Regions from separate parts of the Homo sapiens genome. Here region 2 is linked to region 1. A link means that fine-mapping ties the variant in region 1 to the plasma level of a protein whose gene starts in the linked region. Region 1 holds a variant in brackets. A gene starts in the other region. All regions are shown on their forward strands.

The links. A credible set is the group of variants that fine-mapping cannot tell apart. PIP is the chance, under the fine-mapping model, that this variant and not a neighbour inherited with it causes the effect. The UK Biobank Pharma Proteomics Project read protein levels with antibody pairs (Olink). The fine-mapping took linkage between variants from a reference panel, not from the people measured, so its PIPs are less certain.
Region 2: MIA starts here. The variant in region 1 is the best candidate, but not a certain one, in a credible set for the plasma level of the MIA protein (UK Biobank, PIP 0.89).

Annotation. Positions count from the first base shown.
Region 1 is chr4:85,466,240-85,481,533 of GRCh38, forward strand. ARHGAP24 (Rho GTPase activating protein 24) reads left to right here and starts at 8,911. Exons shown (of 10, transcript NM_001025616.3): 1 at 8,911-9,320. The variant C/T (reference allele first, on the strand shown) is at 5,908.
Region 2 is chr19:40,775,314-40,790,607 of GRCh38, forward strand. MIA (MIA SH3 domain containing) reads left to right here and starts at 208. Exons shown (of 4, transcript NM_006533.4): 1 at 208-356; 2 at 439-572; 3 at 1,656-1,766; 4 at 2,084-2,177. The coding sequence starts at 230. The coding sequence ends at 2,107. RAB4B (RAB4B, member RAS oncogene family) reads left to right here and starts at 2,934. Exons shown (of 8, transcript NM_016154.5): 1 at 2,934-3,078; 2 at 4,706-4,786; 3 at 5,072-5,186; 4 at 8,465-8,527; 5 at 8,608-8,762; 6 at 11,352-11,447; 7 at 11,535-11,665. The coding sequence starts at 3,063. The coding sequence ends at 11,650. It overlaps MIA-RAB4B (MIA-RAB4B readthrough (NMD candidate)), which reads left to right and starts at 224. Exons shown (of 10, transcript NR_037775.1): 1 at 224-356; 2 at 439-572; 3 at 1,656-1,766; 4 at 4,706-4,786; 5 at 5,072-5,186; 6 at 8,465-8,527; 7 at 8,608-8,762; 8 at 11,352-11,447; 9 at 11,535-11,665. It overlaps RAB4B-EGLN2 (RAB4B-EGLN2 readthrough (NMD candidate)), which reads left to right and starts at 2,906. Exons shown (of 12, transcript NR_037791.1): 1 at 2,906-3,078; 2 at 4,706-4,786; 3 at 5,072-5,186; 4 at 8,465-8,527; 5 at 8,608-8,762; 6 at 11,352-11,447; 7 at 11,535-11,665. RefSeq lists silencers at 2,068-2,197, 2,748-2,987 and enhancers at 3,048-3,117, 4,005-4,536.

The DNA.
Region 1 (15,294 bases):
TATCATTGTATTTTTCTTTACATGTAAAAATTAACATAAATCCTTATTCTCAAAAATTTTAAATTAATAGATTCTTCATGTGCAAAATTTATTATTTAAGTAACCATTTGATTCTAAATATTTTTTAAAAATCCAATGGGGCACTCTTTATGAGGGGTTAATAAATCAATTTATACATTATAAGGCACTTAATCTTAAATATTTGATTTATACAATTAATTTTATTAAGACCCAATGAAATTGAAGTGTTTACAACAATCACCCCCAAAAGCAAAGGAGAAGTAGAAAAAATAAACAACTTCTGAATCACTTTTAAGCCTACAAATTATATTTCTATATATCTTGTCACCTTTTGGCTGAAATAAGTGTGGCAATATAAGCAATTAAAGCTCAATGTTAAAATAAAAGATTTTTGTTGTTGTGTTAGGCTTTCTTAGTGGAATGCTCAATCCAGAAATTATTTTAATGTTTGTAAACTGATTTTCGGAAGATTTGATACTATCATTAGATTTCCGTCTTTACTTATAAAAGAGTGTTTTTTTCTTAATTGCACAGTTCAAAACCAGAGATTCTGTGCAATGGATGCCAAGAAAAACCTACATGGGAAATTTTCATATTAACTATGCCATTGTCTTCTGGTTTTTATAGCAATGTGTTGATAATTGAAACAACAAATGAGCAAAAATGTAAAATATGTCAAAATATCTTCACATACTGTTTAAAGTCTTAGCTGGAGTCTGTCTAAAATAATGATATAACATTACCGTATAAGAAGTAAGTCTTTTGTTTGCTGTGAAAATGATGCTAGTAACTTTCAGAGGCTAGATGTTAGCTAAGAATAAATGTTCATATTGCAACATCGTTTCTGCATTACCTTAGAGGAAAATGGAAAATTCACTTTAAATCTTTTTTGTTCACCCATTCTTAATGATTGAATGTAAATTTCTTGAAAACACAGACAAATCTGAATTGACTTTGCATCTAGCGCTGGGCCTCACATTTAGGAGGTATTACACACTTTTGTGCCTGTGTAAGTGAGGCATCTCTGTATATGACAACCAGCTACTTTCCTGAATTTGCTAATTTCTCCCAATATGCTTCTGCTTTATGAAATTACCATTATTGGGCTTAACTACTTCCCCTATGTGCTTCTAATTCTTTGTGATAGTACTTGAGTATTGACAGAAGTTTAAAAAACCTTAAACAGGAATATGGGAGAACTTTACCTTAATAATGAATGTGTATGAACTGGTTAAAGTCTAGGCTTTAGACTTTAAGCTCCAAGTCTCCAACTAGCAGGAATGATGGAAATCCCCATCCAATTAAGCTTTCTCTCACAGAGTACTGAGTAGCTTATGTCTTCTCCCTGGAAGTCATCACAGATCTCAGTGCTGCTATCTGCTCCCTTACCTCATAGCCCTCACCTGCAGCAGGATTGAACCTGAAGGAACAGCTGGGATTGATCTTGCTGCTGATTGCTTCTACAGATGCTGGGCACTGCCATGCCCCAACCCAGTTCAGAGAAGCTTTCTCTATAACACTATTAAAATTATTAGGTTACCCAAAAGGTGGTCTCATTCTCTGTCCTTTGATTTTTCAATCCCTTTTCTTTCTTTTCTTTTTTTTTAAGAAACAGGGTCTCACTCTGTCACCCAGGCTGGAGTGCAGTGGTACAATCATAGCTCACTGCAGCCTCAAACTCTTGCATTCCAGTGATCCTCCCACCTCAGCCTCCCAAGTAGTGGGGACTACAGCAACACTACACCGAGCCACAGTTCCCTTTCTTGAATTTGGAATTATTTTCCCCCAGTTTGAGTCAGAGAACATTTGAATGGAATCATCTAATGTCCTATCCAAAAGGACTATTTTTCTTTAAAATGCATCAGTGTCTTAGGCTGAAGTTCAAGAGCCTCCATTTCCAACTCTTGGGACTACTATTCCTCATGATCACCATTTAGAAGCCTCTTTTACTCACCTGTCTATTCTTGAGTAAAGTACACAAGGTTGAAGAAAGTCTTCCATTGAAGACATCAAGACAAACTGCTCAGCATTTAGAAATGCTACCATTTGCCCTCCCCAGCCTGAGCCCCAGTTGAGTCTCATCTTACAATCCGGCCTAAGCTCGCCATTCTTGCAAAGTAAGCCTTCACAAAGCTTGCTTGCTCTCATTTTCAAACACAAACTCGGGAAAAGAAAAGAAAAGAAAAGGAGAGGACAATAATTTTGTAGTCCTATTTTATCTGCATAATAGCCCACATCTTGAACTTTCCTTTAACATTTATCTTCTTGGAATATCCTCCTAGTTTATTTTGAAAATCTTTCAAAAATTCCATTATTTTTATTGATTTTCCAGGAAGTTTATGTTTGGTCATTTTTCAAATATTAAGGAACTAGTTATCCCCAACACTACTTCTTACATAATCAGCCTCAGCCTATCTTTACTATGTCTTAAAAAACCAAGCTTATAATTTCAAAATTTTTATTTTAGTTTCCCTTCAAGATCTTAGTTTTAAGATTTTGAATACAACACTCAGTATTGAGGGACTAATTTTCAAGTTCATGAATTATCCGAACCACTTACTATTCCACTTGCTGATACTCCCCTTGGCTTTTTGGCCAATTCACTGTCCATTAGCACCTCTCACAGATGGTGAGCACGAAGAAAAAAACAGTTAATTTTGCTACTGGTTGGAATAAGAAGAAGAACAGTTAATTTTGCTATTGGTTAGTAACTTGAATAAAGGATCTGATAGTGTAGGACATTAAAATTAATACTTTAAGTGGGATTTAAAATTGGTCTGTAGGAGAACAACAATCTTCCTCCTCACAAAATAATGTAATAATAATTATTTTCAAACACTTGGCCAATATAAGTGATATATGAAAGGGAAATTGTGCTGTCTCTATTTGCATAGGGAGATGCTGTTGCTGATACATCAGTGAAAAGAATCCAGACTTTGTACTTGAATAGCCTAAATTCAAATCTTTTCTCCATCATTTATTAGCTTATATGATTGTGAATAAGATATATACAATGTTTCTCTTTGTTCTCTCTTCTGCAAAGTGAAAATAAGGATAAATTTCTCATAGCTGCTGCAATAAAGACCACATATGGGAAAGGCACATTAATAACCATAAGGAATATTCTTCTTATTTTATTATTATCATTATTAATATGTTTGGATGAGTTATATTGATTCATTTACACTCTCTTATCTAGTTTTTACGGAAGATAATTGAGTAAGTTGATGGTCCTGTCTGCACTCTATAACAATAAAACATTTTAATCTTCTTGACAATCTAGTTGGTTTTAGATGACTTAAAACAATGACCTCAGCTCCAATTTTCTAGTCAGCAATCCAAATATTGATCAAATCTAACGTTTGATCAACAATGGGATCAGTTATGCCTGGGATCTGAGTTCTTTAACAGTTTTAACAGCTTAGATTTGTATCTTGACTGTGTATTCTTTTATCAGTGGGGTAAGAATGTACAATGAGGTAAATGTTCTTCTCTTTAATTTTAAATTATCTGAGATGAGATAAAGCAGGCAATGGAGAGAGGGAAAGAATGGAACTGATGCCAAAAAAATCCATTATTTAAAGAGCTTGGGATATGATGAAAATAGGACGAAATGAGGATTTCCCAGACAGATGATAAGGTTTGGAATATACATGACAATGCAATTAGAAACATGAATTATGAATGTGAAGAACCTATTGGTAACTTGCTTTCTATTATCCTGAGTATAAGGGAATAGGAAGCTATTTTAAAAGTCACACATGTAACTTAGGAATACTATATAATGATTCTTGGGAGAAGAATGGTGTTATTTCAATGGCAGTATTTAATTTTCTAAAAAACTGAAAAGAAAAGATTCCAAAATGTGAACATGCTTGAAATCTACAAAATGGCATGTGTAGTCAGAGTAAGCCCACTTTGTTGCTGCTCAGGTGCAATTAGATTTCTAAATATTTTAAATGTCATTCAGTATTACACTAAGAGTTGAGTCCATAAGTGAACAATTGCATGTCTGGAGAAATATTTCACTTTATGAGTATGCATGTGTGATATGAATGTTCATGGTGTGTGTGTGTGCGTGCACACACATATGCCTGTACTTATAAGGGAGTAGAGAAAGGATAGAGAATGTGGTGAGCTAAAATGTGAATGACTGCATATTAAAGGTTGTCTTAGAGAAATTGTGAGTCAGCAAAGCACAAGGAAATTCTAGACTAGTAAGGGATTTAGAAATGACCACAGCAGGTATAAAGCAGAAAGTTTCTCTGGGAGCTGATTGGAGAAAAATCTGCATATCATGAAAGCGAGAGATTCTTTTTTTTTTTTTTTTTTTGAGATGGAGTCTCGCTCTGTCACCTAGACTGGAGTGCAGAGGTGCGATCTCTCCGCCTCCCAGGTTCACGCCATTCTGTTGCCTCAGCCTCCCAAGTAGCTGGGACTACAGGCGCCCGCCACCACGCCCGGCTAATTTTTTGTATTTTTAGTAGACAGGGGGTTTCACCGTGTTTGCCAGGACGGTCTCAATCTCCTGACCTCGTGATCCGCCCGTCTCGGCCTCCCAAAGTGCTGGGATTACAGGCATGAGCCACCGCGCCCGGCCGAGATTAATTCTTTAACAGAATCCAGCAAATTCCTGAAGTTAGGTTTAAACAGCATAAAAAGAAGCATTCTGAGACCGGGAGCAGTGACTTATGCCTGTAAGCCCAGCACTTTGGCAGACCGAGACAGGAGGACGCTTGAGCCCAGAAGTTTGAGACCTGGGTAACTTGTGGAGACTCCATCTCTACAAAATAAATTAAAAATTATGTACGCTTTGTGGTGCGTGCCTGTGGTCCCACCTACTCAGGAAGCTGAGGTGGGAGGATCCCTTGAGCCTGGGAGGTTGAGGCTGCATTGAATTGAGATGGGGCCATTGCACTCCAGCCCGTGGACAGAGTGAGACACTGTCTCAAAAAGGAACATCTTGATTGGAAACTAAGGTTTGAATTTGGGCCCAGGCCAAAAGGATCTTGCTTTGGTTAGTAACATGATCCAAATCATTATACAAAATAGGCACATACACAGAGGTAAAAAAAACAATTGGACTTATTCAACATATTCAAAATGTTATTACTTATCTCTAAGTGGGGAGATCATGGGCAGTTTTAAATCTCTTCTTTTAAGCTTCTCTGTAGCTTCCAAGTTTCATGAGTTGAACTAATTAATTTTGTAATTAGACAAAAACCAATAGACAGTACTTAGAAAGTAAATTTAATCATTGATATTTTTGGAACCATCTACTTTGGGGGTCTGGTAGATGAAAGAGTGTGACCCAAAAATATGTCAATTCAAAGAAAGTGTGGTGACGGTTGATACCACACTCCTCTCAGGATCTGAATGGGCACATAATGTGTTTCATTTATAAAGCTGTTGACTGTTAGAAGGCATGTGTTGGAATTATAGAGGCCATGGATGACCCATGGCCACAGCTTATTTTTCTATCATGCTCTTTCTCTCCTTTATTATCTTATTTACAGGTATTTAGCTGGATTGATCCTTCCCCACCATTTTAACAATAATAATACATCTTTCCCTGAATCATGTGATCCAAAGTGTTGGAGAGGGTGGGCACAAAGCTCCCTTAATCTCTTTCCACCTTACTTAGTAATTCAGACAAAGCTGGACTTTGTAGAAAAGAAACTTCTACCAGGAAATAAAAAGAAAAAACAAGAACAGATGTTTAGAAACAGACATGCTTTAAAAGGCATAGCCTTCTATCTGAATCCTGAAATCAGATGTTGGCAAATCCCAGTACCCACACAAATTCTGCATTGTTGGTGAGAGCTTGTTGAAAATGTTAGGATTTTGGCAATTCTTGACTATTCAGTTTTGTTACTGTGTTTTTTG[C/T]CCTCTTAGGAATTTATGTTTTCTTAAAAGAAAATGTAATTAAAAAGCTTCAGTATCTGATATTAATGGACAATTGGGTAATATGACAATGAATCACTCTATGCTAAGGTTTTCAAAGAATCTGACATGGAATCTGGTGAAAAACTTTGCAATTTTTAAGTTAGTGAAGTACATTAAAATACATTTTAATCCATACTCATTTAATAGTAACATTTGACCCATATACTTTAAATATTAGACAAAGTAATTGTAGAAACACTGGCTGAGGTTTCCCTAACTAAATTCCATTGAAAGAATGGCCTGATAGAATCAGTGTCCAGGGGGCTTTGTCTATGGAGGGGGTTTCTTTCCTTGACTCTGGCAATACCAACACTCAAACAACTTGTCCAGATGTAGTATAGCCATTATCTTCCTTCTCTCCTCCTCTGCTTTCATTTCTAGATCTCTGGAATCCCCCGGTCCTAAAGTATTATACATCCTTCCTGTAAACACTGAAGTCCTTCAAACTCTGCCTGCCATTATACTGACCTTTCATAGACTTTTTTCCTGAAGGTGTCTAGGACCTGAAGATCCTGGAAAGTTAGCCCTTATCCTTGAATCATTTCTGGGTTTTGTAGAGTTTGTTTGAAGCACACCTTTAACTCAGAATTGAGGTTGACTGATAAAACTCAGCTTTAAGTAACCCTCTGGGCAAGTTCTGAGCAGAGATCCAGTGAGCTGAATGTCAGGCACCACCTCCCTGGAGTCTGTATCAGTCACATCAGCATTCTCCTCTGATTAGAATCAGGTTTCAAGGGTCTTGTTCAAGAGTTTATTCTCTCCTTTAAAGATGCCACAATACGTATAAGGAATGTCTCTTGGTCCCAACTAATCTACAATAAGAGAGGAGCAGTATAGTCAGAGGCCAGAAAACAACGCAGTTTCTAGTTCAGGTTATATTCTCTTGGAACAGACTCCTTGCTGAGGGGCTTCTAGAAAAGGAATGCAATGGTCCACCTCTTTCTAAGTAGGAGGGGAAGAAGGGGCTTGTATTGGTGGATATAACTCCTTTCCTATCCTCTCAACTGTCTAATCCCCAAGTGACAACCATCCTCTCCTTCTGTTGTACTTTCTAGCTTAAGATAATCACATATATCACACACACCAATGAAGTGCTATCAGTTGGAAAGGGTGGAGACAGAACCAGAAGATGGGAAGGAAAAGGCCTTGAACACAGCCTGTGTGTGTATTAGAGGTGTGTCTTAATCTTTTGGACTAGGGACTACCCAGTAACCACCCTGAGTTCAGTTTTGTATCACTTTGAGACTAAACTGCTGTGGTAATATTTGTTAGACCCTGAAATAAATTACTGACATGACAGTTTCCTTGTTTTTTTAAATGTCCCCATCTTGAATCATAATTATTGGTACTTGTCTTCCTGAGGCTTTTGAGTCCATCAAATGTGTGCAAATTTCATTTGGGTTAATGTTATTTTCCAGCTTTCATCTGAAACTGCCCATCAGCATTCACCTGCTAGGGTGTTGCTAGAACATGTAAGGCCATGTGGGTTGATGAAGGTAATTTATTCCCACCAATTGGAAAATAAGCTACATTACTTCTAGCTTAGGAATTCCATACATATTTTTAAAATGAAATATGAAACGCAATTTTTTCCCCACACAAATTAATTTGATTCATTAAAGGGCTGAGAATTCTCCCACCAGAAAATCAAGTTTATAGTAGGACCTCAGCATGGGATGGGGTAGATTCGTTTCTCCAAGAACTTGGAGAAAGAGGACAAAAAGGAAAAACATATCAGTGTCCACTCAGCCTTTTATTTTTGGTGTTTCTAAAACTAAACATTTGCTCTTCTTCCATATCCCTCTCTCACTGGAGATCCCTAGTGAGGACACCCCCATTCTGTGTCTTAAGGATATCTGGTGATGATTTCTAAAAGAGAGTTTCTTTTATTAGTAGTAGCAGTAGTAATTGTTCGAGACGGGGGTGTCACTCCGTCACCTAGGCTGGAGTGCGCTGGCACAATTATAGCTCACTGCAGCCTTGACCTCCTGGGCTCAAGGGATTTTCCCGCTTCAGCCTCCTGAGTAGCTGGGACTACAGACATACGCCGCCACGCCCAACTTTTTTTTTATTTTTTTAATTTTTTTTTTATAGAGACAGGAGTCTCATTATGTTGCCAATTTTGGTCTGAAACCCCTGGGCTCAAGCGATCCTCCTGCCTCAGCCTTCCAAAGTGCTAGGATTGCATGACTGATCCACTGTAAGTGGGTTTCTAAAACAGAGATCTTTACAAAGCTTTTTGAAATAATTTGACTCAGCATGCCAGGTAACCAGAACTGTAAGATCACAATTTGAAACAGACATTGTGGTGATGGTGGGAAGAGACGGCCTGCATCAAAACAATGTTTACTAGTTTGTCCTTTTGTCCCATATTGTGTAACTCCGAGAGTTCTTACACCACCGTAAGAAAGTAATTATACTTTGAATTTCTCTAAGGCTCTAGTTAGAGAGCATCCATCTAAATGTGCATTTCCAGGAATATTGCTTTAATGGCCCAGGTAATTCTAATTGGAGAAATAAAATGTTAGCGAGACAGAGTTGGTAGAAGCAAGTAAAACCGGTGTATGGGGTTTGGCCAATGAAATGCAGAGCTCCTTGAGGGCAGGAGACATGTATTCACCAACCTTCTCGCGCCCACAGCCCCAGATCTGTGGCCAACAAGTATCTATGATGCACTTGAAAGGAACGAGCGATGCCAGATGCGGAGGAACCAGGCAGGGCGCATTCTGTCAGTGGCGCCAGGCGGTGTAGCTCCAGCTCTCAGATAACCCAGGCTTTGGGAGGGCGGGGCTCCTGCCGGCCTCCCCTGTAGTGCGGCTCGAGTCCTGTGAAGCTACCAGTTGCCAAATGAAATCTGAAACCTCGAGCTGTGTCTGAGGGTTGGCCCCACTCAGTTGTTCCAGCCTCTTGTACTGTATATTTACACATTCACACACAATCACCCTTTCTAACTTCTGGGACTCTTTGCGCAACTGCTAGGATTTCTCAAGTGCATGTGGCAACACAGCCCAGCTCCGGGTGGAAACCAGCAGGGCTCTGGAGGGGCTCGGAGACCAGGGGAGCTGTCAAGGCTGCGGCGGGGACCAGAGAGGAGCCTGGCGGGGGTGGCTGGGTGGCTGGGGGAATCCCCCCAACTTCCCATCGCAGGCGCAGCTCTCTCGGCCGCCTATTTCCTCCGAAACCCGCGCTGCGGAGCAGCCCAGTGCATAGAGTTCAACACTTCCCCTTGTTGTGGAAAGTAAAGGAGCCTCACTACCACCTTTTTTTCTTTGCGTTTTCTTACTGCTGGTCCTGGGAGCCTTTTCCTTCGGAGCAGCAGCCCTGTCCGGCATCTGTCTTGAGCTCCCAGCAAGGTAGGTGATGCGGTCGCGAGGAAGTGCGCGGAGCTACCGCGGGAAGGACGGACGCGGCTGCCTGCGCCAGGGGAGGGGGCTGCGGGGGGCGGGGAGGGGGCTGCGGGGGGCGGGGAGGGGGCTGCGGGGGGCGGGGAGGGGGCTGCGGGGGGCGGGGAGGGGGCTGCGGGGGGCGGGGAGGGATCGCAGGAATCCCGTGCTGATGTAGCCTGTCTGTGTTTGTGTGTGTGTGTGCGCGCGCGCGCATGTTTGTGCCGGGAGACAGCAAGCTGGTAGTATGTCTTTCTGGCTTTAAAAATAGATGGAATTAATAAAAACCCTTTGTACAATTCAATTTCCTCTCTTGGTATCCATCCTCCCCTTCCCCTTGTTTGTTTCCTCTAGTATCTTATAGGAGTTCCCTATGTAACAGGCGCACAAAGATAGGTTTTAATAATAAGCATATATATTTGCAAAAATATATATTTTATATGTATAAAATATGTTTTAAAATATTTATAAATATATTACATATTAGAAATATATATTATAAAATATATACATATATTTGTAAACACAAAACGTTAGGGAATCTTTGGTGAATTTGAAGCCACTCAAAAGATTTTGTCCAAATGTTTTTAAAAATAACATTTAATGATAAACATGTAATATGGTCTCGTTTTTAGAAAATACTTAAGACTACATTTATTTTATACGTACCCAAATAGAAGGGAGACAATGTTACTCTGAATTCCTTAGATAGATTTTCAGCATCAACCAGTAATAGGGAGCCCAGACTTCTTTGTAGACTATATCTCGTTTAATTCATTTGAATTAAACAAGTAATTTCTCCAAGTAATTTCTGTTTCCAGCACATTTTATGTTACTCTTTTTTTAACCTTCCACGGCATCATTGTTTCATCTCTTTCTAAAAAGGAAATAAATAAATCGTGCTGAGTATTTGGAATATAAAAGTTGTTAAGGCTTTGCTTATACATAAATACATAAATAAAACAATATGTGTTGCTATGTCTACTAAGTAAGACAAATTCATTGGAATCCAGGGATATTTGCAGTAGAGTTTAAGAGCTTTACTCAGTTACTGAGTAGAAGATGTACAGACGGATTAAATACAAACAATCTGTCCCCAGTTCCAATTAGAACTCAAAACCAATCCTTCAGGGCAAAAATGGATGACGCTATTGAACTGGGCATTGTAAAATAAAACACACAGAATGTATGTATTAGAAAAAGCCAGAAAACAGCCATAAAGTCACATCAGACTTGTGAAGATCTCACTCCCCCTTTTAAATTTCTTAATTCTTCCTCTTTTCTGGGCATATTTCAACTTGTAAGAGAGCTCAGTAATAAAAGTTACCATTTTATCTTCCCTGACTGCCTGGCCTTCAGGTAGCAAGTCCAGAAATCTGTTCTCTCTAGAGCCATTACTTAGTGGTCAGAGACTTCACCTTTGACATCTTGGAGGACGGAAATATTGACAAAACTCTGAAATAAATAACATCCTACCATTCACAGGCAGTATATTCTTGGTGGAAGACCTTTAAGTGGGGATAAGAGATAAACTGAGTTTTTCAGATCTGGAATTTAGTTTGAGGTATTTGGAAGGAATATAAAAGAGGTATGGTACTAGGAAAAATAATCGGTAATTCTTTCTGCATGTGGAGGGGCTGTTGAAACTCAGACTGTCCTTGGCTTTCAACTATATTACTTGGTTTTATTACTTCATCTCAGGGGTTTGGATTTGAGATGAGGTGGTTTCTCTGTAATATTCTTCTGTGCCTTACATACCCTGAATCTGAACTATTTTGAAAATATAAGCCTGATAAGAAGTGGGAAAGAATTAAGTTATCTAGAAAAAAATCCACTGCAGAACAAATGGCAATGCATTCTTCCAGACTAGAACATAGATTTAAGTGTAAAAGTGTTTTTGGGTGAAATCCCCAGGGAAATCCTTTCAGCTTTTGCTGGGGATAGTAATGGCCAAAGCTCTGAGAGCTTTCATGGATCATGGTTTTATTTACTGTGTGATCTTGGACTCTGCAGGGTGAAGGGTAAGGAGTGGGCAGGAAGGGTGAGGAATGTGCAACAGGTGGTGATGAGTAGTCCGAGTATGATTACTTTGCTGTCTTAGCCAAAGCCCTGTTGGTGTTTACCAACAGTTCCCTTAATATTTTCACTGTGACCTACTGGCCCATTGACGAGTGTTTTCTTTCCGGCTCGATTAAAGTCTGGGTTGGTTTCTCAGGGCTGAAAGCAAGCGGTGCTACTGTACAGTTCAGGCCGTGCGTTTGTTTCCTGTTCTTAGTGTGTGTGGTGCTGTAGCACCGTCTTAGTCGCTTGTAGTTATTTTCCTGTGAATTTTCTGACCAGCAGTGAAGGGTTCTTTTCTCATGAATTGAGCTATGTCATGCTGATTCCTTCTTTCTGCCATGTTTCAGTTTCTGGTACAAGTGGGTGCTTTGGAAAAACAAGATGGGGAAGGTAGGTAGAGTCTCAGTCTGGAGCCCAGTAACAAGGGACAGCCACCCAATTGGTTACATGTGGGTGTGGAGGAGGTTGGTGATAACAAGAGCCTGAGACATCCATTCTTCACTGATCACATTTTATAGAGGAAAAAGCAGAAGATATTTAAAATGGAACGATGCCTGTTTGCTCTTAAAGCCATGGCTAAAGGACTAAGATCTCTCCCAGATACAGAAAGATATTTAAAAATACAGTTGTTAAATGGTCAGCTTAGCCATGAAGTTAATGTTCTTCATGTGAAGAGTGGAAGCCTCACATCGAGTCTCGCAATGGTAACCCATCTGTCTTTGCTATACAAACTCAAACTTTACAAGGTTCTGATGGCTTCAGCAGCTAAGTACAAGCACATTTGGAAGTGGAGGGATTATTGTGATGAAGAATCAAAGAATATTCAGTTTTCAGTGGTTATTGTGTACATTTGTGCAAAAAAGCAGCATCTACACTCCACTGTGGCATTGCTACAGTTAATCTTTACAAAGTCAGATCTAACTGTGTAAGTCTCTTTATCTAAAACCTTTGTTGGATTCCAATGACTTACAATATTTAAACTCTTTAGTATAGTTTCTAAAAGCTCTTCCAAGCCCTTTCTTTTTAGCTCCCCCTTTGTGTACAAGGTCTCCTCACTGTTCAGGCTTCTGATCTCTGGTTCATGGATTCATTCTCCTGGAATGCCTTCTGTCTGAAAGTCCCTCTTGATTCTTGGTGGCTCACTTCCAGTGGAACTTCCTTCGGGAAAACTTACCCAATTCCGTGAAGAATTAATCATTTCATCTTGTCTGCTTCTATAGCATTTTGAACATACTTTGAATAATTGTTGCAATAATTTTTATGTATTTCCCCTGTCCTCTCTCACAACTACTGTGAGTTCCTCACTGGGTAGATTGGTGGTGGGGGAGCCACCTGAATTCAAGCCCCCAGCCCAGTGTTGGAAACATAGTACACATCTGTTAATGTTTCCCCAATAAGTGGGCAAGTGAAGTCGTCAATAAATGAAATACTGGTGCACTCCAACTTATGAAGATAGTTATATCTCAGAAGTCCATTTAAAAAATGTCTATTTGGTCTTAGAGTTCATTTTCCAAATATAACAATGCTACAAAACATAATCCACTTTCCATACCACCCCACACATGCCTATTTAATCTCTATAATAGATGAAATATTGTGCTTTTGCATATCTAAAGCAAAAGCAAAACAAACAAAAACTACTGTGAAATCATCTTTTTCTTTTGGACATCACAAAATACACTTGAGTTTAAAGAAAATAGAAACAATTATAATAGATATACATTTTCCACAACTGTGTTTTATATTGTACTATAAAATCTGTAATCTGTGAAATCCAAGTGGGAGGTCCTGGATTTGGCTGTGAAGACTAATAATGAAGTTAAATTTGGAGATCCTGCTTATTGAATGGGCAATAGTCTTAATTAATCAAATAAAATAGAAACACTAATTTTGGCTATTTAATAATTATCTGGAGTGCTGGTGCTTGAGGGAAATTAATTAAAGGAGAATGTGGAGCTGGATGGAGAAGAGGAAATTTAGAGGGGCAGCTTCTTTCATGTTATAGTTTCTTTATTGTATTGATTTTCCTTTCATCTCATTTGAGCACTGAGGCAAATCCAAAGTTTCTTCCTGAAAAAAATTCTTTGTCTGCAGTTATTTTTGCTAATATGTAGAAAGGGGCTTACACACTGTTTAGACTAAAATACATATGGGCTTATTTTATTTTCAGAGCAATGTTACCTTTGTCATGTGCATACTGCCAGTTAGCACGTGGATAATACGTATTTTGATCAAGAATTCATACGTGTGGTTCAGGGTATAGCCAGGGATTGAAAGCTCAAGTTCCTCCTTATTCAGCATCTCTGAAAAGCCTGGAACTACTATCACTGATATTTAAGAATAATAGTCCAATCGCTAATTGCTCTAAGTTTTCTAAACTCTCTATCTATATCAAATTACATAACTGGAAATGTACTTACTATAATCACATTACAATACTTTTTTGTTAAAATGTCAAAATGTCTTTATTACACTATGCTTTAATATGATACCCCCCCTTTTTAACTACTGAGAGTCAATATAAAAGAGATGAGCTGAAAAGGAAAGAAATATCTTGGCACCTTATGTTATGCGTTTCAAATTCTTTATATAAGGATTTCCATGATAAATTCCTTTTTGCCTAGACTGCTAGGAATTTTTTAAAGTATATCTCTTCTGATTAACTAGTGGGTTTTTTTGGTTAGAAAAAAGACAGGCTAAAAATTCACCATGCTTCTCAGTTTGACTTGTCACCCAAAAAACTCTGAACTAAATTTGATGCTCAATTGTACGCCAGTCAAGCTTTTTGTATGACATGGTTCACATCATCTTATTGTCACTTTTAATACCCTTATGATACCCACAAGTGTACTAAGCTAATTAAGCTAAGTTAAATCCATGATGAAAACAGATTGAATAGTTACATCACGTTTTTTTCTTGATACAATTAGTTAAATATTTATAAATTTGCATGGTATGGCTTTAGTTTTTTGGAACCAATAATTGTTTTCTAGGTCATTTTTTGTAGTTCCTTGAAACATTCTCTGTAGTGCTTTTATAATCCCTGATAGATAAAATGACCTTTCTTCCAAATGCTACATTTTTTAAAAAATGTAGGAAAAAAATCACATTTTAGTAACTTTGAAAGTAGATACTAAGGCCAAACATGAGTTCTTTTCAATATGTGTATCACAGATGTATAGAAGAATTCCCTTAGGGATGTCGCTGAGAAGGGTAAGAGAAAACCTTTTGTTTTTTCTTACAAATTGAATCTATCAAAAAATTGAGGCTGATGGAGCTGTAATTAGGGCTGTTTTCAAACCATCAAATTGAGCCTTCAGAAAATAAAGTAATTTTTCAAATTCTCCAAAAAGGGAGAATATAACTTTCATTTTGTCTTGAGTTTTTTTCCCTCTCCTTGAATCTAAGACTCTCATAATAATAATCATCCTAAAGAATTAAGTACTTCTTCTACGTACCAAGTACTCCATGAGATATTTTTACATACATTACTTCTGATTTTAGTAGTAATTAGAATTAGTAATTCTAGATGTAATCTATGTTATATTTAATCCAGATATTTTTATGACTATTGTATGGGGATGTTTAGGCTCAGAGAGGTAAATAAAGTTACCCAAGGTAATGTAGACTTGAACATCAAAACCACATCTGCATAAGTCCAAATACCCTGACATATTTACTATGTCCCTTTCCTCTCAGTGCTTTTCAATTATGAATTTTCAAATAATAAACTGTGTATTTCATGGGTTTGGCATGTAGGATAGATCCTGATCTCAATATGATTCTCATGAACTGGCCTTGGAGCTCTCTTGCAGGTCTTCTAGATGACAGCATCCTAGTGCTGATGAGTTGGGACCTGTGGGATGGGTTACCACTACCAAGG
Region 2 (15,294 bases), not on the chromosome of region 1:
GCTGCTTTGGACCTTATCTGGGAATTTCCTTGGGCTTACAGCCTTTACCCTATCCTTGAAATGGTTCTGGTTTCATAGCAACTTCTAGGTGGTGTGGGCGAAGTTTGGGACTGGTTTAGGGCGGGGACAAGACCAAGAACACAAGTTTCCTTGTACTACGGGAGAGAGGGAGGGGAGGAAATTGGAGACCCCAGCACCCCCTTGCTCACTCTCTTGCTCACAGTCCACGATGGCCCGGTCCCTGGTGTGCCTTGGTGTCATCATCTTGCTGTCTGCCTTCTCCGGACCTGGTGTCAGGGGTGGTCCTATGCCCAAGCTGGCTGACCGGAAGCTGTGTGCGGACCAGGAGTGCAGCCGTAAGAATGGGGAGGGGAGAATTGGGGGCTTGGGCGTTAGCCTGTGTGGAGGGTGCTGCATTCCCTTCTATTCCTTCCCTAGACCCTATCTCCATGGCTGTGGCCCTTCAGGACTACATGGCCCCCGACTGCCGATTCCTGACCATTCACCGGGGCCAAGTGGTGTATGTCTTCTCCAAGCTGAAGGGCCGTGGGCGGCTCTTCTGGGGAGGCAGCGTGAGTCTTGGGAGAGTGAAAGAGGGAAGGGTACAGAGCTGGGGTAGACTCATTATCCCCATGAAGGGAAGATTTGAGGGGGGTGAACTGAAATAGACATTGTGGGGGGATATTGTTACTTACTTTATTTTATTTGCTTATTATTTTTTAATTTTTTCCGAGACAGAGTCTTGCTCTGTCACCCAGGCTGGAGTGCAATGGCACGATCTCGGCTCACTGTAACCTCCACCTCTTGGGTTTAAGCGATTCTCCTGCCTCAGCCTCCCAAGTACCTGGGATTACAGGCATGCACCACCACACCTGGCTAATTTTTGTATTTTTAGTAGAGACAGGGTTTTACCATATTGGCCAGGCTGGTCTTGAACTCCTGACCTCATGATCTGCCCGCCTTGGCCTCCCGGAGTGCTGGGATTACAGGTGTGAGCCACTGCCCCCCAGCCTATTTTCACTTTATTTACCAATTTTAGGACCTGATATGGTCCCACGTTCTGTTCTAGACACCAAGATACAACAACAAATGATCCTTTTTATTCTAATGGAGGGAAATGAACAAAAAGCAAGGCATAAAAAATAGCAGCAGCCGGGCACAGTAGCTCACACCTGTAATCCCAAGTAAGGCCAAGTTGGGAGGATAGCTTGAGCCCAGGAGTTCGAGACCAGCCTGGGCAACATAGCAAGACCCCCATCTCTATAAAAAAAAATTTAAAATTAACTGGGCTTCATGGCATGTGTCTGTGGTCCCGGCTACTCGGGAGGCTGAGGTGGGAGGATTGCTTGATCCCAGAAGTTGAGGCTGCAGTGAGCCGTGATCATGCTACTGCACCTCAACCTGGGCGACACAATGAGACCCTGTTTCCAAAATAATAATAATAATAAAAGCAAATATGCGCTGCTGTGAGAATTAACAGAGACTTACTTGGGTGTTCAGAAAGGGCCTCTGAACAGGTGGCATTTAAGCTGAGATTCATATGACAAGGATGGAGCAGTTATGTGGAGATCAGGGAGAAGGGAGAATGCAAAGGCCTTCAGCAGGCACAAGCTTGCCATCTTCCCAGACCCTAGCTTTTAACTCCTCTTCCCCAGGTTCAGGGAGATTACTATGGAGATCTGGCTGCTCGCCTGGGCTATTTCCCCAGTAGCATTGTCCGAGAGGACCAGACCCTGAAACCTGGCAAAGTCGATGTGAAGACAGACGTGAGTGTCATGGGGGCTGGCAAGAAATGTGGGGGGAGGACCCTTAGGTTGTGGGGATGGGCAAAAATGCTCCCACACTTGGCTCCCTGGCAGCCTAGGTATGTGCGCTGGGAGAAATTCTTTCCCTGCCTCAATTTTCTCACCAGTAAAATGGGTCCAGTTGGGAGGTGCAAAGATTAGAGGGCTCTAGGCTAATTTGCATAGCACTTGTGTGGCCAGACCTGGGCCCTGCAGCTGCAGCCTTTGCTAAAACCACTAGATCCTTTGTGGTGTGACCGCTGGTTTTCTTTCCACTGTTTCCCCTTTCTCTTTTTCAGAAATGGGATTTCTACTGCCAGTGAGCTCAGCCTACCGCTGGCCCTGCCGTTTCCCCTCCTTGGCTTTATGCAAATACAATCAGCCCAGTGCAAACGGCTCGTCTCCGTGGTCTTTGGGGTGGGGTAGGGTAGGGTGGGGACTGTACAAATGAAATGTTTCTCTAGGTTGCTGAATCTAACCAATTAACCCGCTGCCTGTGGTAACGTCAGTGGTTGCTAGGCAGAGTTTCACTGATGAAAGCCCTGTGCAGTAGGAGCGCTCCTAAGCTTAGGTTTCGGACACAAGCAAAGGAAAACCTAAGCAGCCCAACTAGGGGATTGTAGTGTCCTCTCTAGACCAGTGGGAGGGAGCCAATCGGACTACGCGGAGGATATAAATCGCACAGTAAAGGTTTTCTTGGAAGATTATCTGGAAAGGGAGGTGGGAAGTAACCTGCGCCTATCTGCCCAGTTTTCCTCCTTTTCGCCTTTGAGAACAGTAATCGCTCCCGCCAGCTCAAGATCAGCTCCTCTTCCAGCCTCTTTCTGTCAATCCTGCCCGTGCCCCCTTCTTTGCATTTGTATCCCCTCCCCCAAGTCCGCTCCGATCCAATCCGGAGACTCGACTCTGCCCCCCGTACTCCAGACTAAATCCGTTCCTCGGCTCAGCTAAGCAGCTCTGCACGTCCCTTCCCACTTGCTCAGCCAATCGCTGGGCTCGGCCCCGCCCCTTTGGGCTTGGTCCTTCTCACGCCACCAATCCGCGCCTCTTGTCCCGCCCCCTGCCCGCGAGTCCGCCAATCCCGCCCTTCGGAAAGCGTCGCCTGGTATCCAGCTGCCGGAGCGGGTCGCGCCGGAGGGGGGCGGAGGCGGAAGTGGCGGTGCCGGGCCCGGGGAGTAGGAAGGAGCCGGGGCTGTAGCCGGAGTGGAGCGGCTGCCAGCCGAGGAGCAGGCGCGGCCGCGGCGCCATATTGCGGCCCTCAGCGGCCGCGACCGAGTCATGGCTGAGACCTACGGTGAGGGTGGTGGACGAAGCTGGGGTCCTGGGTCTGGGCCCAGGGAGGATGCGGCCTGTGGGAATGGGCGGGGCTTTGTAGATCAGGGGGCGGGGTCTGGTGTGATGGAGGCAGGACCTAAGTGGATGCTGGGAGGGGTTTAGTGGGTCTGAGGCTGAGCTTAATCGATTTAGGTGGAGCCTGAGGGTCTGGTGCGTGGGTTAAATAGATCTGGGGCGGGATTTGAGGGAGCTGGTCCTGAGGGGTTCAGGGAGGCCCTGAGGGAAGAGGTGGGCCTTAATGGATCTGGGCGGAGCCTGAGTGAAGGGGCGGGGCTGACTGCATGAATGGCAGGAGTCGGGCTTATGGGCTAGAGGGAACACTGAATGGAAGCTCGGGACCCTGGGGCTGATCTGGCTGGAGAGAGCTCTGGAATGGGTTTGGGGATGGGCTGTCCTTGAGTTAGGGGCAGGACTTAGTGGCAAAGGGTGGGACTTATGCATGAGAATGGAGCCGGGTTCTGGGCAGAGGGAGGGAAGGAGAGGTCGGGAAGTGGAAAATCAGTAGGGATGCACCATAGGAGGTGGTGATTGGAGGCAGGGGAAGTGCAGGTTTAGGAGTCAGAGGGAGCCGCATTCACTCAACAAATATAGAAGAGAAGGGAGAAGAGTGCAAAGACCCTGAGGTGAGAACCAGCTTGTCATTTTCAGGGAATAGACTGAAGGTCAGGAGCTATAGTGGAGTGAATGAGTCAGAGGGTGGTAGGAGGTGAAGAGGAACAAGGGCTATATCGTAGTCCTTGTTTAAATAGCTTTCAAGAGACTTTAGCGACAAAATAGCTAAGATCTGGGACTCTGGAGCCCTTGGCCTAGGTTTGAATCTCACTTCTGCCCAGCTGTGTCACTTTGGGCAAGTCAGTTAACCTTTCTGGCCTGTTACCTCATCCGGAAAATGGGAATAATTTTTAGTCTACCTCCCTCATAGAGTTTTCCTGAGGATGATGTGAGCTGTTGATGTGAGTAAAGACCTTTAGAACTGTTCCTGGCCCACAACAACACACAATTGACCCATGTAACAAACCTGCACATGTGGGCTGGGCGCGGTGGCTCATGCCTGTAATCCCAGCACTTTGGGAGGCTGAGGCAGGCGGATCACCTGAGGTCGGGAGTTTGAGACCAGCCTGACCAACATGGAGAAACCCCGTCTCTACTAAAAATACAGAATTAGCTGAGTGTGGTGGCGCATGCCTGTAATCCCAGCTACTCGGGAGGCTGAGGCAGGAGAATTGCTTGAACCTGGGAGGTGGAGGTTGCGGTGAGCCGAGATCGCGCCATTGCACTCCAGCCTGGGCAACGAAAAGTGAAACTCTGTCTCAAAAAAACAAAAACAACGACAAAAAAACCCCTGCACATGTACTCCCTGAATCTAAAATAAAAGTTGAAAAAAAATATATAGAATGTGCCTGGCACATGGCAAGTACTACATAAGAGTTATCTGTTACTGTTACCTATTGGTTTGTTTCTGCCTATGTCTGTTTCTCTCCCTCTAACTGTGATGGTTAGAGAGAGAGATTGGATTGGAATCCATCTTTTTTCCCTGTATCTTTCTCTCCCTGTGGGTATCCCTGATTTTGGCTCCATCTGGTCAGACTTCCTCTTCAAATTCCTGGTGATTGGCAGTGCAGGAACTGGCAAATCATGTCTCCTTCATCAGTTCATTGAGAATAAGTGTGAGTTTCCCGCAGTGGTCCTGGGAACCCTGAGCTGTGTTTATGCGCATGGTGTGGGCTGGTGGGCAGCCGGTGGGGAGGGCAGGGCTGGCCATAGGTACAAGTCCAGTGCTGGCTTTTTGGTCCTTGCTTTGTCGTATGTCCTTTACTAGGTTCTCCTTGACCTCAAGTCACTCCAGCAAGGAGAATGGGTTTGTAGAGACTGAGAGGGCCTTGGAGGATGGGGGATCCTCTGAGCTGTCTCCTCTCTCCCTGTACTGCCCCTTCTGTTCCTCCTACTCCCAGTCAAACAGGACTCCAACCACACAATCGGCGTGGAGTTTGGATCCCGGGTGGTCAACGTGGGTGGGAAGACTGTGAAGCTACAGATTTGGGACACGGCTGGCCAGGAGCGGTTTCGGTAGGTGGGCTGGGCTCCCAAGGGTGATGGGGAGAGAGAGTGAGAAGGAAAGAGAGAGATGTGTGTGTAGAGTCACTTGGAGACACTGAGAGGGCAGACAAGGCAGACAGAGAGAGATGAGACACCGTAGTTAGCAGGTATATATATCCAAGGAGAGAGGGAGTACTGGAGAGATAAAGAGATGGTGGAAGAAAAAGAGGTAGGGGCCAGGCGCAATGGCTCATGCCGGTAATCCCCGTGCTTTGGGAGGCCATGGTGGGAAGATTGCCTGAGCCCAGGAGTTTGAGACCAGCCTGGGCAACATAGTGAGACCCCATCTCAAAGAAAGAAAAAGAGATAGAGAAAAGTGGCTTGGGGGTGGGGAAAGGGATGGAGACTGAGAGACACCGAAACAGAAAGAGAAGGGGAAACTTGAGAGACTCACACTCAGAAAGGAAAAGAGCAAGAGAGACAGAGACTAAGAGAGTTGAAGAGAATGATAAGGGAGGTAAGGAGGCCTGGCACGGTGGCTTACACCTATAATCCCAGCACTGTGGGAGGCTGAGGCAGGTGGATCACTTGAAGTCAGGAGTTCAAGACCAGCCTGCCAATATGGTGAAACCGTGTCTCTACTAAAAAAAAAAAAAAAAAAAAAAAATCAAAAAATGTAGCCAGGCTGTGGTGGTGGATGCTAGCTACTTGGGAGGCTGAGGCAGGAGAATTGCTTGAACCTGGGAGGCAGAAGTTGTAGTGAGTCAAGATCGCACCACTGCACCCCAGCCGGGGTGACAGAGCGAGACTCTGTCTCTGAATAAATAAATAAATAAATAAATGAATAAATAAATAAATAAATAAATAAATAAATAAGGGAGGTGAGGAGACACAGAGAAACAGAGGTCAGAGGCAGAGAGGGAGACAGGGTGAGTCAGACAGGTGTAGTTGGACGTTGAATGAATGAATGCACGAATTTACGGGAAGGCAAGGGTGAGCATGAGAGCCACAGAGATGGAACAGAAAGAGAGACAGTGAGAAATAGGGAACTGAAGACACACACGCCAAGGCAGGAGAACCGCTTGAGTCCAGGAGTTTGAGACCAGCCTGGGCAACATTGTGAAATCCCATCTTTCCAAAAGAGAGATGGAGAAATGGACGTGTTGTGGGAGAGAGAGAGAGAGAAATGCGTAGGGCTCAACACACTGTAGGTCTTCAGGAAATGCCTGCAGAGCAGAAAAGTTGATAGACACATAGAAACCTTAGGAGAGGCCGGGCGTGGTGGCTCATGCCTGTAATTCCAGCATTTTGGGAGGCCGAGGCGGGCGGATCACGAGGTCAGGAGATCGAGACCATCCTGGCTAACATGGTGAAACCCCGTCTCTACTAAAAATACAAAAAATTAGCTGGGTGTGGTGGCAGACGCTGGAAGTCCCAGCTACTTGGGAGGCTGAGGCAGGAGAATGGCATGAACCCAGAAGGCGGAGCTTGCAGTGAGCCCAGATCGCGCCACTGCACTCCAGCCTGGGCGACAGAGCTAGGCTCCGTTTCAAAAAAAAAAAAAAAAAAACCTTAGGAGAGTCGGAGAAACAGAGAGCAGGGAGAGAAATAGAGGGAATTCAGTCCACGGAAAAGTGTGATCTATGGCAGCATCTAGTAGCTGCTGAGTTAATTCTTGCGTATGGATTAACTGCCTGAGGTGCACAGAGCCCAAAGGCAGAGAGAGGGGCTGAAGGATAGACAGGTGTGTAGCATGGGCTAGGTTTACGGTGAGTGCTTAGTAAATGCTGTGGAATGATTGCATGAGTTCCAGAAGGACCCAGACTGGTGAGACAGAGAATGCAGAATTGGCTACACTGGGAAGGAGACTCCACCTGACACAGCAGGAGAAGGATAAGCAGATGTTGTATAGTGCTTGGGCAGGGCCAGGCAAAGGGGAGATTTGCTCAGAAAATGTTGAATGAATGAATGCACAAATGCATGGGAAGGCAAAGGTAAGCATGAGAGAGCCACAGAGATGAAACAAACAAACAAAAAAGACAGAAATAGGGAATTAAATAGGGCCAGGCACGGTGGCTCACGCCTGTAATCCCAGCACTTTGGGAGGCCTAGGCGGGCAGATCACTTGAGGTCAGGAGTTCAATACCACACTGGCCAACATGGCGAAACCCCATCTCTACTAAAAATACAAAAATTAGCCGGGCGTGGTGGTGCATGCCTGTAATCCCAGCTACTTGGGAGGCTGAGGCAGGAGAATCACTTGCATCCGGGGGGCAAAGGTTGCAGTGAGCCAAGATCACGCCACTGCACTTCAGCCTGGGCGACAGAGCAAAACTCCATCTCAATCAGTCAATCAATCAATCAATCAATCAATAAAAGACATGTAGGGCCGGGCACAGTGGCTCACGCCTGTAATCCCAACACTTTGGGAGGCCAAGGTGGGCGGATCACTTGAGCTCAGGGGTTCGAGATCAGACTGGCCAACATGGCCAACCCCATCTCTACTAAAAATACAAAAATTAGCCTGATGTGGTGGCGTGCATCTGTAATCCTGGCTACTCGAGAGGCTGAGGTGGGAGAATCACTTGAACCCGGGAGGTGGAGGTTGCAGTGGTTGCAGTGAGCCGAGATCATGCCACTGCACCCCAGCCTGGGAGACAAGAGTGAGATTCCTACTCAAAAAAAAAAAAAAAAAAAAAAAAAGAAAAAGGAAAAAGACACATAGGTTAAGGCAGGAGAATCACTTGAGCCCAGGAGTTGGAGACCAGCCTCGGCAACCTAGCAAAGCCCCATCTTTACAAAAAATATTAAGAAATTAGCCAGGTGTGGTGGTGCACACTTGTAGTCCCAGACACTACATAGGCTGAGGTGGGAGGATCTCTCCGTTGGGATACTGAGCCTAGGAGGTCGAGGATGCAGTGAGCCAAGATCGTACCACTGCACTCCAGCCTGGGCTACAGAGCAAGACCATCAAAAAAATAAAAAATAAGACACACATGAAAGAGACACAGAGAGAAAAACAGACGAATGGAAAGATAGGGACACAGGGAGAGACAAAAATGGAGATTCATAAATAGAGACAGCTGGCCAGCTAAGTGAGATAGAAGCTGAGAGAGGCGAAGAGAGAGGGACTTCAAGGATGCAAGAAGAGAGAGGAATTGCATGGTGACCCGACCAAGGCCAGGTTTTGGGGGATGGGCCAGCAGTGAAGGGGGGGGCCTCCGAACCACCAGTCTGTCTCTGTAGAGGGGGGCATTCTCGGGGCAGACCCCAGCCTTGGGGGTGACTGGGTCCCCCTGGCCCCACAGGTCAGTGACGCGGAGTTATTACCGAGGGGCGGCTGGAGCCCTGCTGGTGTACGACATCACCAGGTGGGTGCCCGGGGTGGGTGGGGTAGGGCATGGGTGGTTCCTCTCCTGCACTGCCTCCCTCCCTTCTCCCTTCTCCACAGCCGGGAGACATACAACTCACTGGCTGCCTGGCTGACGGATGCCCGCACCCTGGCCAGCCCCAACATCGTGGTCATCCTCTGTGGCAACAAGAAGGACCTGGACCCTGAGCGGGAGGTCACTTTCCTGGAGGCCTCCCGCTTTGCCCAGGAGAATGGTGAGGGCTGTGTCGTGGACCAGGTGGTGGTGGGGGTGGACAGTCCACAGGGACCATGGGTTTACTGGCTCTCAGTGGCTGTACCCAGCAGGGGAACGTGGAGGTTCAGAAGTCTGGGTTCAAATTTGAGTGTTGGCTGGGTGTAGTGGCTCACACCTGTAATCCCAGCAGTTTGGGAGGCCAAGGTGGGAGGACTGCTTGAGCCCAGGAGTTTGAGACCAGCCTGGACAACACAGTGAGATCCTATCTCTATAAAAAATTTAAAAAATTAGCTGGGTGTGGTGGCTCATGGCTGTAGTCCCAGCTACAGTGGAGGCTGAGGCAGGAGGATCACCTGAGCCTGAGAGTTTAAGACTGCAGTGAGCTGTGATCACGCCATTGTACTCCAGTCTGGGAGACAGAGCAAGACACTGTCTCCAAAAACAACAACAACAACAAAACAACAACAAAACTAAGTGTTGCCATCAGTGAGCTATGTGATTACACTGGTTCTCAGTTTCTTCATCTGGAAAGTGGGATCACAGTGTTTCTGCCCCACAGTGTGCTGTGATGATTAAGGGAGATTGTGGAAAGTCCTTAGCACCCGCCACAGAGTGGGTGCTAGATTAATGTTGGCCGCTAAGGTTTCGCCTACCGTCAGGAGGCCGCACAGGGTATTGGTTTTTTAAATTAATTATTTTATTTATTTTTTCCTCCTACCGCACCTTCCTGGGTATTGGTTTAATGTAGAGATTGCAACCCTAGATGGCCCTAGGTGAAAGGCACTTTTTTTTTTTTTTTTCTGAGACGGAGTCTTGTTCTGTTGCCCAGGCTGGAGTATAGTGGCGCAATCTCGGCTCACTGCAACTTCTGCCTCAGCCTCCCGAGTAGCTGGGACTACAGGTGTGCGCCACAACGCCTGGCTAATTTTTATATTTTTAGTAGAGACGGGGTTTCACCATATTGGCCAGGCTGATCTCGAACTCCTGACCTTGTGATCCGACTGCCTCGGCCTCCCAAAGTACTGGGATTACAGGCGTGAGACACTGCGCCCGGTGAAAGGCACATTTTTGAATACAGGAGATGGGATGGGGTAGATCCTTGAGTAACAGGTACTGGTGTTAAGGGGAGTGCAGCATACTGACAACCCACACCAAAAGGTTTGCAAGGGCCAACCACAATGGCTCACACCTGTAATCCCAGCATTTTGGGAGGCCAAGGTAGGAGCATCACTTGAGATCAGGAGTTTTAGACCAGCCTGTGTAACAGAGTGAGACCCTGCCTCTACAAAAAAAAAAAAAAAAAAAAAGCCTGGGTGTGGTGGTATGTGCCTGTGGTCTGGGGTACTCAGGAGGTTGAGGCAGGAGGATCACTTGTGCCCAGAAGTTCGAGGCTGCAGTGATCTGCAATCACACCACTGCACTCCAGCCTGGGGGACAGAGAGAGACTTTGTCTCAAAGAAAAAAACAAAAAAGGTTTGCAAGTATAAACTCATTTGAAAACATTGTGTTGGCCAAACCACCCACATCTGGTGGCTTGAGATCTGCCTGTGTTCCCCTGTTTTGCAACCTCCAGGTTTAAAGGAGGTTTTGCCATCAGAGAGGTGTGGGTGTGAATTCAGCTCTGATTTTCTGACTGTGGGGCCTTGTCATGCTGCTGATGGGTAGACTCTGGTTGGCCTGTTCCTGTCCTAGATGGTGCTAGAGACACAGTGTTGGAGACAGCCCTAGGCCCAACCTTCATGGAGCTCACAGTTCAGTGGGTGAGGGTGGAAGGACAGACCCACTTCCAGACAGTGACACCTCAGGAAGGTCAGGGCTTGATGGTGAAGCACCGGGAGACAGGGGTCAGAGCCAGCAGGGGAGAGCCCCAGAGGGTCAGGGCCAGTACTGGGGGGGCAGGCAGAGGGATCGGGGTGGGATGGAGAACACAGGCAGAGGGGTCAGGGCTGGGATAGGGCAGGCAGAGGCAGAGGGGTCAGTTGGGATGAGGGGACACAGGCAGAGGAGTTACATGGGATGGGGGGCAAGGGCAGAGGGGTTGGGGTGGGATGGGGGGCCCAGGTAGAGGGGTCAAGGCCAAGTTTGGGAGGCACAGGCAGAGCGGTTGCATGGGATGGGGGAGCATGGGCAGAGGGCTCAGGGGTGGAATGGGGCAGGCCTAGGCAGAAGGGTCAGGGGTGGAATGGGGCAGGTCCAGGCAGAAGGGTCAGGAAAGGAATGGGGCAGGCCCAGGCAGAAGGGTCAGGGGTGGGATGGGGACCCAGGCAGAGGGTTGGGGCCAGGATGAGGAAGCACAAGCAGTGGGGTCAGGGCCAGGATAGGGGGCCACAAGAAGCTGTGGGAGCCCTAAGTCGGTACCTGACTCAGCCCAGGAAGTCAGGGAGGACTTCTTGGAGGAGGAGCTGTGTGAGCTGAGCTCTGAAGGAAGAGCTGGGTGGGCATATCGGGAAGCGGACATTAGTGGCAGGGAAATGGCATGCGCAGAGGCCTGAGGTGAGGGTAAGGGGGGATGGAACATTGGAGGAACAGGATGAGAGTCAGCAGGTGAGAGCTCAGTGGAGGGTGGGGACTAACTGGGGCCCTGACCTCAGAGTGTGTGCCCCTGCAGAGCTGATGTTCCTGGAGACCAGCGCTCTCACAGGCGAGAACGTGGAGGAGGCGTTCCTCAAGTGTGCCCGCACTATCCTCAACAAGATTGACTCAGGTGAGGCCCCGACCGGCCCGAGTGGGAGCGAAGGGCAGGCCCGGGGGTCTCCAGGCAACCAATGCTGACCTCTCCCCTTCCCCACAGGCGAGCTAGACCCGGAGAGGATGGGCTCTGGCATTCAGTACGGGGATGCGTCCCTCCGCCAGCTTCGGCAGCCTCGGAGTGCCCAGGCCGTGGCCCCTCAGCCGTGTGGCTGCTGAGCTCTGTGGAGCCAGGTGGGACACTGGGGGCTTTAGGGAGGCAGGGCGGCCTCTTGGGCATGGGGGAGATGGTGTGGAGATAGACACTGAACATGTGATGACAAGAGAAACAGAGTGAGAGAAAGATGCAAAAACACACAAGCTAAAGGAGGCATCTGGCTGGGCGCAGTGGCTCACGCCTGTAATCTTAGCACTTTGGGAGTCCGAGGCGGGCGGAGGCAGTTCATTGGGTGGGGGTGGGGAGACAGACCCACTTCCAGACAGTGACAGCTCAGAAAGGTCAGGGCCAGGCCTGGCTCGGTGGCTTATGCCTGTAATCCCTGTACTTTGGAAGGCCGAGGCGGGCGGATGACCTGAGGTCAGGAGTTCGAGACCAGCCTGGCCAACATGGTGAAGCCCCCTCTCTACTAAACATACAAAAATTAGCTGGGCGTGGTGGCAGGTGCCTGTAATCCCAGCTACTCGGGAAGTTGAGGCAGGAGAATCACTTGAACCTGGGAGGTGGAGGTTGCAGTGAGCTGAGATCACACCATTGCACTCCAGCCTGGGTGACAAGAGCAAGACTTTGTCTCAAAAAAAAAAAAGAAAGAAAGGTCAGGACCAGATGGGGAGGCACTGGGGGAGAGGGGTCAGAGCCAGCAGGGGAGAGGCCCAGGGGGGTCAGGGCCAGGGTCAGGGCACAGGCAGAGGGATCAGGGTGGGATAGGGCAGGCAGAGGCAGAGGGGTCAGGTGGGATGAGGGGACACAGGCAGAGGGGTTGCATTTGATGGGGGGTATACATAAGGTCAGGAGTTCTAGACCAGCCTGGCCAACGTGGTGAAACCCCTCCTCTACTAAAAATACAAAAATTAGCCAGGCATGGTGGTACATGCCTATAGTCCCAGCTACTTGGGAGACTGAGGCAGGAGAATCACTTGAACCCAGGAAGCTGAGGGTGCAGTGAGCCAAGATTCAGCCACTGCATTCCAGCCTGGGCGACAGAGCAAGACTCTGTCTCAAAAAAAAAAAAAAAAAAAAAAAAAAGAGACATCTGCCAGGCCACAGGGAATCCACCTGCAGCCCCAGGCCAGCTTCCTGCCCTAGACCTTGACCCTCCCATTCATAGTTCTCCAGCGATTTATTGAGCGCCTGCTGTGTGCCAGGCCCTGCTCAAGGCACTGGGGATATGGCAGGGAGTACAACAGACTCCCATCCTCATGGTGCTGACATTCTCTTTGGGGGAGACAGGTGATAAACAAGAGATGTAAGTCGACTGGGCGCAGTGGCTCACACCTGTAATCCCAGCACTTTGGCAGGGTGAGATGGGAAGATCACTTTGAGACCAGGCTGGGCAACAAAGCAACCTTATCTCCACAAAAAGTTTTTTAAAATTAGCGAGGCGTGGTGGTGTGCACCTGGAGTCCCAGCTACTTGGGAGGCTGAGGTGGGAGGATGGCTTGAGTCCAGGTGTTCGAGGCTGCAGTGAGCTGTGACCATGCGCCACTGCATTCCAGCCTGGGTGACAGAGCGAGACTCTTAAAAAAAAAAAAAAAAAAAAAAGTAAAGTATGTAGTAGTGAGGGAGGTAAGAACTATGGGGAAAAATAAAACAGGCACAGATGAGTGGATAGGGTGGAGGAGTGTACTTTTTTTTTTTTCTTTGAGATGGGGTATTGCTCTGTTACCCAGGATGGAGTGCTGTGGCGTGATCTCGGCTCACTGAAACCTCCGCCTCCTGGGTTCAAGTGATTCTCCTGCCTCAGCCTCCCGAGTAGCTGAGATTACAGGCGACTACCACCATGCCTGGCTAATTTTTTTTAATTTTTATAGAGACAGGGTTTCTTTTTTTTTTTTTTTTTTTTTTTGAGATGGAGTCTTGCTCTGTTGCCCAGGCTAGAGTGCAGTGGCACGATCTTGGTTCACTGCAACTTCTGCCTCCTGAGTTCAAGTTGCCTCAGCCTCCTGAGTAGCTGGAACTACAGGCGCCCGCCACCACGCCTGGCTAATTTTTATGTATTTAGTAGAGATGGGGTTTTACCATATTGGCCAGGCTGGTCTCGATCTCTTGACCTTGTGATCTGCCCGCCTCGGCCTCTCAAAGTGCCGGGATTACAGTGTGAGCCACCGCACCTGGCCGACACAGGGTTTCATCATGTTGGCCAGGCTGGTATCAAACTCCTGACCTCAAGTGATCCACCCACTCTTGGCCTACTAAAATGTTGAGATTACAGGCGTGAGCCACTGCGCCCGGCCAAGAATGTACTTTTTTTTTTTTCTGAGATGGAGTTTCACTCTTGTTGCCCAGGCTGGAGTGCAATGGCGCGATCTCAGCTCACCGCAACCTCTGCCTCCTAGGTTCAAGCAATTCTCCTGCCTCAGTCTCCTGAGTAGCTGGGATTACAGGCATGTGCCACCACACCCAGCTAATTTTGTATTTTTAGTAGAGACGGGGTTTCTCCGTGTTGGTCAGGCTGGTCTGGAACTCCCGACCTCAGGTGATCTGCCCGCCTCAGCCTCCCAAAGTGCTGGGATTACAGGCGGGAGCCACCACGCCCAGCCTTTTTTTTTTTTTTTTTTTTTGAGACAGAGTCTCACTCTGTCGCCATGCTAGAGTGCAGTGGCACGATCTCGGCTCACTGCAACCTCTGCCTCCTGGGTTCAAGCAATTCTCCTGCCTCAGTCTCCCGAGTAGCTGGGACTATAGGTGCGTGCCACCATGCCCAGCTAATTTTTGTATTTTTAGTAGAGACATTTCACCATGTTGGCCAGGTTGGTCTCGATCTCTTGACCTCGTGATCCGCCCACCTCAGCCTCCCAAAGTGCTGGGATTACAGGCGTCAGCCACCGCACCTGGCCAAGAGTGTACATTTAAACAAGATGAGGAGGGAAGCCTCGCTGAGAAGATGACATTTGAGTGAAGGAAGGGAGATAGGGAGGCCTGTGGGGATCTGGGGCAAGAGCACTGCTGGAGAGCACAGCAACGCTTCTAGCGAGGGGTATGCCTGGTGTCGGTGAGGGTGACCAAAGCAGCCAGTGTGGTCATCATGGAGGACCTGTGTGTGTTTTGTGGGTACAGCATGAGATGGGGTCAGGGGTTGGAGGAAGCAGATCAGTTAGGGCCTGTGGGCCCTGGGGAGGCCTCTGGCTTATACCCTGTGTGGGAGCCATGGGAGGCTTCTGAACAGAGGAAGGACAGGATCAGATTCAGGGGTGCAGAGAGTTCCTCTGGCTGCATAAAGGGAAGGGGCTGTGAGGGACAGAGGAGGTCACCAGGACACCAGAGAGGAAGCTGCTGCAAAGTCCAGGGAAGATGGTGGAGGACAGGACAAGGGGGCGGGAAGAGGAGTGGCTGAGAAGGGAATAGGGTTCATGTCCTCCCTAGACTCTCTGTCTTCCAGTCTTGGCCTCTCTCTTTTTTTTTTTTTTGGTTCCTGTCTTTTTATTTTGAGACAGAGTCTCGCTCTGTCACCCAGGCTGGAGTGCAGTGGCGCGATCTTGGCTTACTGCAAGCTCCGCCTCCTGGGTTCATGCCATTCTCCTGCCTCAGCCTCCTGAGTAGCTGGGACTACAGGCACCCGTCACCATGCCCGGCTAATTTTTTGTATTTTTTTTAGTAGAGATGGGGTTTCACGGTGTTAGCCAGGATGGTCTCGATCTCCTGACCT